Linked DNA regions of Homo sapiens: region 2 is reported to be linked to region 1. Evidence: microRNA targets listed by miRTarBase, many of them from high-throughput screens and not tested one by one. Region 1 holds a microRNA gene; the other region holds the end of a gene's coding sequence.

The links. Region 1 holds the annotated microRNA hsa-miR-6814-5p (UCCCAAGGGUGAGAUGCUGCCA, at 1,689-1,710, opposite strand). A microRNA usually pairs through its seed, bases 2 to 8, with sites in the 3' UTR of a target mRNA and lowers its output. Matches are read on the target gene's strand: a 7mer-m8 pairs with bases 2 to 8, a 7mer-A1 pairs with bases 2 to 7 and ends in A, and an 8mer does both.
Region 2: miRTarBase lists KLB as a target of hsa-miR-6814-5p. Seed matches in the 3' UTR shown: 7mer-A1 at 1,243-1,249 and 7mer-A1 at 2,881-2,887.

Annotation. Positions count from the first base shown.
Region 1 is chr21:41,745,127-41,748,499 of GRCh38, forward strand. MIR6814 (microRNA 6814) reads right to left here and starts at 1,715; the gene lies at 1,646-1,715. It overlaps RIPK4 (receptor interacting serine/threonine kinase 4), which reads right to left. Exons shown (of 8, transcript NM_020639.3): 5 at 1,487-1,645; 6 at 633-736.
Region 2 is chr4:39,447,976-39,451,380 of GRCh38, forward strand. It overlaps KLB (klotho beta), which reads left to right. Exons shown (of 5, transcript NM_175737.4): 5 at 326-3,405. The coding sequence ends at 711. Among named protein-coding and RNA genes, the nearest start is that of RPL9, 9.2 kb to the right of the region's middle.

The DNA of each region.
Region 1 (3,373 bases):
GCACACATGCACTTTATGTTGAGGCAGTGGGCGCATATTCCTGATATACATATTTCCTGATCTCCTGAGCTCACACCAACAGCCTGGGATTAATCGCCCAACACCAGATAACACGTTATAAAGCTCACTTATCAGCTGGGCCTCACAGGTCTGCTCCAGCCTCATCACCCGAAAAGGCATTTAGCCAGCCCTGCTACTTGGAGCTTCTTATCACATCTGAAATCACCTGGGTGGCACTCATCAGAGTGCAGACCATTTATGGGCAGCTATAAAGGAACTGGATCCCCGAGCCAGGGGTGCAAAGACACTCAGACACCAGCTCTCCCTCCCCGGCCGGGGCTGGGCCTTCTGATCCCCGTGGTCCACACACATCCAATGAGTGGCTATTTAGTGTCAGGGAAGCCCTTCCGCCACTCACGCAGAATCAGACAGGAGGTGGGGCGGGGATGCAGTCGGGCAGGTGGACCTGAGCCCCCATGGGACCTACACTTCTAATGGAGTTGGGTGCGGGATGGGCTCAGAAGAGAGGGAGAGTGGTCCGGGCGGCGGGGGACTCTGCAAAGAGGAGTGGTTTGGAAACTCCTGCCTGGAAGCCGAGGAGACAAAAGACCCCTGTGGGAAGGACTCGTTACCTCGCTCCTGGGCTCCGGGGGGCTTTTCACGTCCAGATCATGAGCAGTTTCTTTCACTTCGTCATCAGGCTTTTCACACAGGTCCTCGGTTTCAGAAGTAATTTCTTGTGGGGAAGAAAGGGGACATGTCACTCGGATGATGACTTCTGCGTACACACGCGTTCCATATAAACGCAGGGCCCCCACGAGCTGGGGGATTTCTCACACGCCTCGGCCCAGCCTGAGCTCACCAGGCAAGCCCAGGGGCCCTACATGGACAATTTGCTGGCCAAACCCAGGCCCCCCCATCGGTAATCATTTGAAGGCCTCACCAGACTCAAGGCGGAAGCCTTCCCCGGGGGAGCGCCACCTGCCAGTCACAGGGAGCAGAGCTGCCAGCACCTGGCGGATGAGCTCCCCATTCAGCCCGTTTCCTGCCGTAAGCTTTAAATGCAGCAGTTTCCATCTCATCAGGGTGACTTTCCTATGCCAGAGACACATCTGTCCCAGGAAGTCAACTCCTCAAGAGAAGGGCGACGCCGCCGGCCACCGGCCAGGTAAGTCCCCGGGAAGAGCATGGCTGCACCTGAACTTCAGGCTCCCATACAGACTCCTCTGGGTGGCAAGCCCAACCCTGGTGGGGAGCAGGGGGCGGATGGTTGGAGGCAACTCAGTTCCAGCTGCCGTGGCCGAGCCGTGAGTACCAGAGGCCGCAGGCAGGTGCTGGGTCCAACCTATCTGTGCAGGGCTCATTTCGGCCCACCTGTTACACGCCTTGTTTCTCACCCAGGCCTGGTCCCTCACCCTGTCCTGTCTGTCACCTCTGTCTCCTGTGACACCCACAGAATGTGGCGGGGAGACCCCGGGGTGCTCACCTTGGAAGGTGGGCCTAACTCGCGGATCCCCCTGCCAGCACCGCTGCATGAGGCGTATCAGGTGGCTGCAGGCGCGCGGCCGGGCTCTGCACACGGGCGGCAGCTCGGGGCGGTGGCCCTTCACCACCTTCACCATGATGTGCAGGATGTTCTTCTCATCTGCCAAGGGAAGGATGCGAGTCAGGGGCTCTGCAGGGCTGGGTGGCAGCATCTCACCCTTGGGAGGAAACGACACACTCGCCGGGGGCCACAATGGGGCCATCCCCACACCACCCCAGGGAGACGGCTCCCCCACTCCGTTTCAAAGGCAGAGCTTCCTGTAACCCTCACCCTCATGGTGCGCCATGCTCTCTAGTTTCCTGGTTTTGAAATCGACCTCTTTCCCTGGGTTCTGATCTACCAGAAGGAGTCAGTGTGTTTGGTCACAGAGCAGATCTTTCTAGGCATCCCATCCAAAGGAAGATGAGGTTCAAAGGAGAACAATATCTTATGAGGCTCATTCCATCAACAGCCCAAGCCAGCAAAGGGAATGAGGCTCACGCACCATGGAGGAGCCACAGCGTCCTACATCCACAGAGACCCAACTCTCTCTACAATGGCGAAGAAGTCTTCCTCAGTTCCAACTCCAATCCCAAGCTCAGGTCCCCAGCTGGCCTCCCCTGCCGGTGCACCAGGGCTGGGATGTGTGGAAGGGCTCTTTCCCCTCAATTCACCATGTGGGGCCGCACCTGTCCTTTCCAACTGCCTTCACTAGCATGCATGGGCTCTAGCTTATTATTATTATTGCCACAACTTCTACCCTGACTGGGAAGGGCCCAGGGTGACATCCAGTGGGCCAAGTTCTTTTTTCTGCTTAGCCTGGAACCCTCAAGGTTCTTGTTCCCAACAGCCCTCTCTGCCCTCCAGATCCAAACACACCCACGCATGGAATGGCAGCTCTTTGGAGAGGCCATGTGCCTCAGCAGGTGTGGAAAATCAGCCGAGAATCACCCACGGCTGCCAGGATTCCATACAATGTTTTGCTCCACTTTCCCATTAAATCTTGTGCAATAAATATCGTTAAGTGTTTAGCAGGCTATTTCCATGATTATTCAGACTTCAAAACCAACAGCTCCTCTAAATAAAATGGAAGCAAACTGAAGTAAACGCCCGGAATGTTTCCTGCTGCCAAGCACAGACTGGAAAAGCTGGGGAGAGGCCTTGTTCTCCTGCACCTTGAACCCCCTCCTACCCATTTTTGCCTGAGGTTGCAATTTTTTGAATTTGAAAAATCAGACCTTGGCGATGACCTTGAACAGTAGGACACGAATAATTCCCATATGATTAGCGTTCCAATAAGGGAACACTAGGCATATTCAGCAATAAAGCACAAGGGCTTGAGCCTTGACCTGTCCCCTGCGCCTAGCTTCGGGTGTCACATCTATCAGACACTGCCTCATTTCACAAGCCTTCGGGCTGTAGGCCACTGTGCGGGAGAACGTACAGAAGGCAAGAAAGGCGACAGGCGGTCAGACAACACAGACGGACACCGGCCAGCAGAGGCCTGGCAGGACGCGTTCTGTGCTTTCTACTGACATTCTTTTAAAGCTGCCAAGATACTTGATCTTGCGATGCTGGAAGATCTCTTCTCACCCCAGCACTTTCCCATACATCGGCTCCTAGTCTGAGCCCCGACTAACAAGGGGCTAGGCCTTGACTCTCATCTTCATTTTTAGACATTTTCGGTCACACCACAAAATATCATGAGTAGCCCAGAAATGTCTTTAGAGGAAAAGGGAATCTGTCCAACAAAGCTAAAAAGTCCTGGATTTTTATGATAAGTAAGTCAAGGTGTGACAACTTTGAGGATGGTGTTCGGAATGGTGGCTGCCTGGCTGGGGAAGCAAA
Region 2 (3,405 bases), not on the chromosome of region 1:
AGGCAACGTTTTTCTGCTTGTGACCCTTTAAACAAAAGTGACAACCTTCATTGCTCTGCTCCTTAAATTTGCTTTTTCCTCCAAGAGTTTTTGGATTATTTATGGATCAAGTTTCACTACAAATTTTTCAGACTTAAATTATACATATTTTCACCTTCTCCTTTACATAGATCATAAAAGAATAAATGTCAAAAAAAACCCTCTAATAAAAATCACTACCTTTATTATGGGCATAATTTTAGCTTGTTTCAATGAAAACTAAATTCTTCCTCAAAGATACTTCATAGTCCATTTGTGATTAATGTTAATTTCTTATCTTTTTCAGCATACCTGATTGATAAAGTCAGAATCAAAGGCTATTATGCATTCAAACTGGCTGAAGAGAAATCTAAACCCAGATTTGGATTCTTCACATCTGATTTTAAAGCTAAATCCTCAATACAATTTTACAACAAAGTGATCAGCAGCAGGGGCTTCCCTTTTGAGAACAGTAGTTCTAGATGCAGTCAGACCCAAGAAAATACAGAGTGCACTGTCTGCTTATTCCTTGTGCAGAAGAAACCACTGATATTCCTGGGTTGTTGCTTCTTCTCCACCCTGGTTCTACTCTTATCAATTGCCATTTTTCAAAGGCAGAAGAGAAGAAAGTTTTGGAAAGCAAAAAACTTACAACACATACCATTAAAGAAAGGCAAGAGAGTTGTTAGCTAAACTGATCTGTCTGCATGATAGACAGTTTAAAAATTCATCCCAGTTCCATATGCTGGTAACTTACAGGAGATATACCTGTATTATAGAAAGACAATCTGAGATACAGCTGTAACCAAGGTGATGACAATTGTCTCTGCTGTGTGGTTCAAAGAACATTCCCTTAGGTGTTGACATCAGTGAACTCAGTTCTTGGATGTAAACATAAAGGCTTCATCCTGACAGTAAGCTATGAGGATTACATGCTACATTGCTTCTTAAAGTTTCATCAACTGTATTCCATCATTCTGCTTTAGCTTTCATCTCTACCAATAGCTACTTGTGGTACAATAAATTATTTTTAAGAAGTAAAACTCTGGGGCTGGACGCTGTGGCTCACACCTGTAATCTCAGCACTTTGGGAGGCCGAGGCGGGGAGATCACCTGAGGTGAGGAGTTCGAGACCAGCCTGGCCAACATGGTGAAACCATGTCTCTACTAAAAATACAAAAAATTAGCCAGGCGTGGTGACAGTGGCACCTGTAATCCCAGCTACTTGGGAGGCTGAGGCAGAAGTTTGAACCCAGGAAACAGGTTACAGTAGGCCAAAATTGCGCCACTGCACTCCAGCCTAGGCGACAACAGCAAGACTGTGTCCAAAAAAAAAAAAAAAAGCAAAAGCAAAACTTTGTTTTGTTAGACTCTACAGCAGAGATTTAACACCCTTCTTTAAACTGGGTAGTCAGTGATAGATAATATATATTCTGTCACTTCTAATAAGGTGCCTTCTCCTTTAGGTCAGGGTGGTTCTAAAATGGAAAGAAAACACAATAGGGTAAGTAGTGCTTGTCTAAGCCAGTTACAACACAGACTCTTAAAGAGGATCAAGCCCTTCATTTTTCTAACAACAAAAAATCACCTATAGAATATCTAATTTGTGATCTTTTACTAGATCTGATTTTTTAAAATAATGTAATTTCCGGCCAGGCACGGTGGCACCGCCTGTAATCCCAGCACTTTGGGAGGCCAAGGCAGGTGGATCACCTGAGGTTAGGAGTTCGAGACTAGCCTGGCCAACATGGCAAAACCCCATCTCTACTAAAAATACAAAAGTTAGCCGGGCATGGTGGTGGGCACCTGTAATCCCAGCTACTCAGGAGGCCGAGGCAGGAGAATCGCTTGAACCCGAGAGGCAGAGGTTGCAATGAGCCAAGATCGTGCCATTGCACTCCAGCCTGGGGGACAGGGCAAGACTGTCTCTCAAAATAAAAAAAAATAATAAAAATAAAAATAAAAGTAATTTCCAAAACCTCATCTCATGGAAAGATCACAGGATGAAGGAAAGCTAGACTCAACTCTGTGAATAGAAGTTGCTATACTGTAAGTAAAGCAACAATTCAGAATACTGAATGAGTTTAAATTGTTTTATATAGCACCCTTTTGGGCTAGGGTTAATTACTAGATCTGACTTGGATAATTTGACACTTTGGGAAATGAACTCTGTTCTTGAGACTTGTTCAGTGTATTTTAAACATCTGAGGAAGAAAACTTAAATATGCACCTATTTATACCTATTCTTTCTTTAGGTCAACATTTAACACCCACTGCATACATTAATTTGTCCTTGTCTGCTCACTCCAGCAATTTAGACCTTAACAGTCACAAGAGACGTTCTTCTGTTACAAAGCCTTAGTAAATTAAGGCAGTTTTGATTATATTCTAGGTCCACCTATGTCTGAAGCTAAATTCAGTATCTAACTGCTAATGAACAAGTTTCCAAAATACTGTAAAAATACAATTAGTCAATTTGAGTAAATGCAAATATGATGAGAAATCAATTTGCTATTTGGCCTGGCAAATGGGAACAGTAAAATTCTGCTTTACTCTTCTCTAGTCTCCTTGCCCCAGCTGCACCCACTACCCCAAAGTTGGCAGTTTTGAGGTATGATTTTCAAGGAATTTTTTTAGTATTAACATCTCCCTCTGAGAACTATGTACCTAAGGTCACGCATACAACTAGTCAATTCTGTTTTTATTACTCTAACTATGTAGAAACAGTAAGTCACTTAAAACAATCACTTGGCTGGGTTTTTTCCCCTTTGTGCCACATTGATTCACCCTGACCCAAGAACTCCAGGGAAAATTCTTTAATGTCAACTGGGCAACTCATTAACCTCTCTTTAACATCAAGGGCTTGGGAAAAAAAAAAAAAAGGTTAGCCACAGGAATAACAAAAACCTGGAATTTATCTTTCAGGTTTTGCTTTCTCTTTCTCACTTTGTTTAAAGTATCTCGTACTCACAGTTCACAAATTAACCTTCACTGTCTCTTTCACATTAAGAGCTTATGCTTAAAGCATGCCCCCCTTTTCTAACTTGCTGGTTTACCATAAACTCCCCTAAGTAATAAAATTCCTAACCCAGTACTGAGAGTCCTCCTTCTCTGCCACTTGGGCATTATTTTACTAGTTTTTAAGCCATCATCGCACAAGAATCCAAAAACCCTTAAATTTTTTAACCACTGGCAAATATGTACAGCAAATTAGGTTAAGCATTTAATCTGGCTCATGCTCTATCATACTAAATATTCAGGTTTATCATAAACTCCTTAAAAACCATCAAAGGTCAACCAGAAACTGATAACTCTTGAAAGGAGCAAACAGGTAAGATCTTTGGAGTTTAAGCTTTTCTGAGATGTGTTGTGAAAAATCTAACGTGT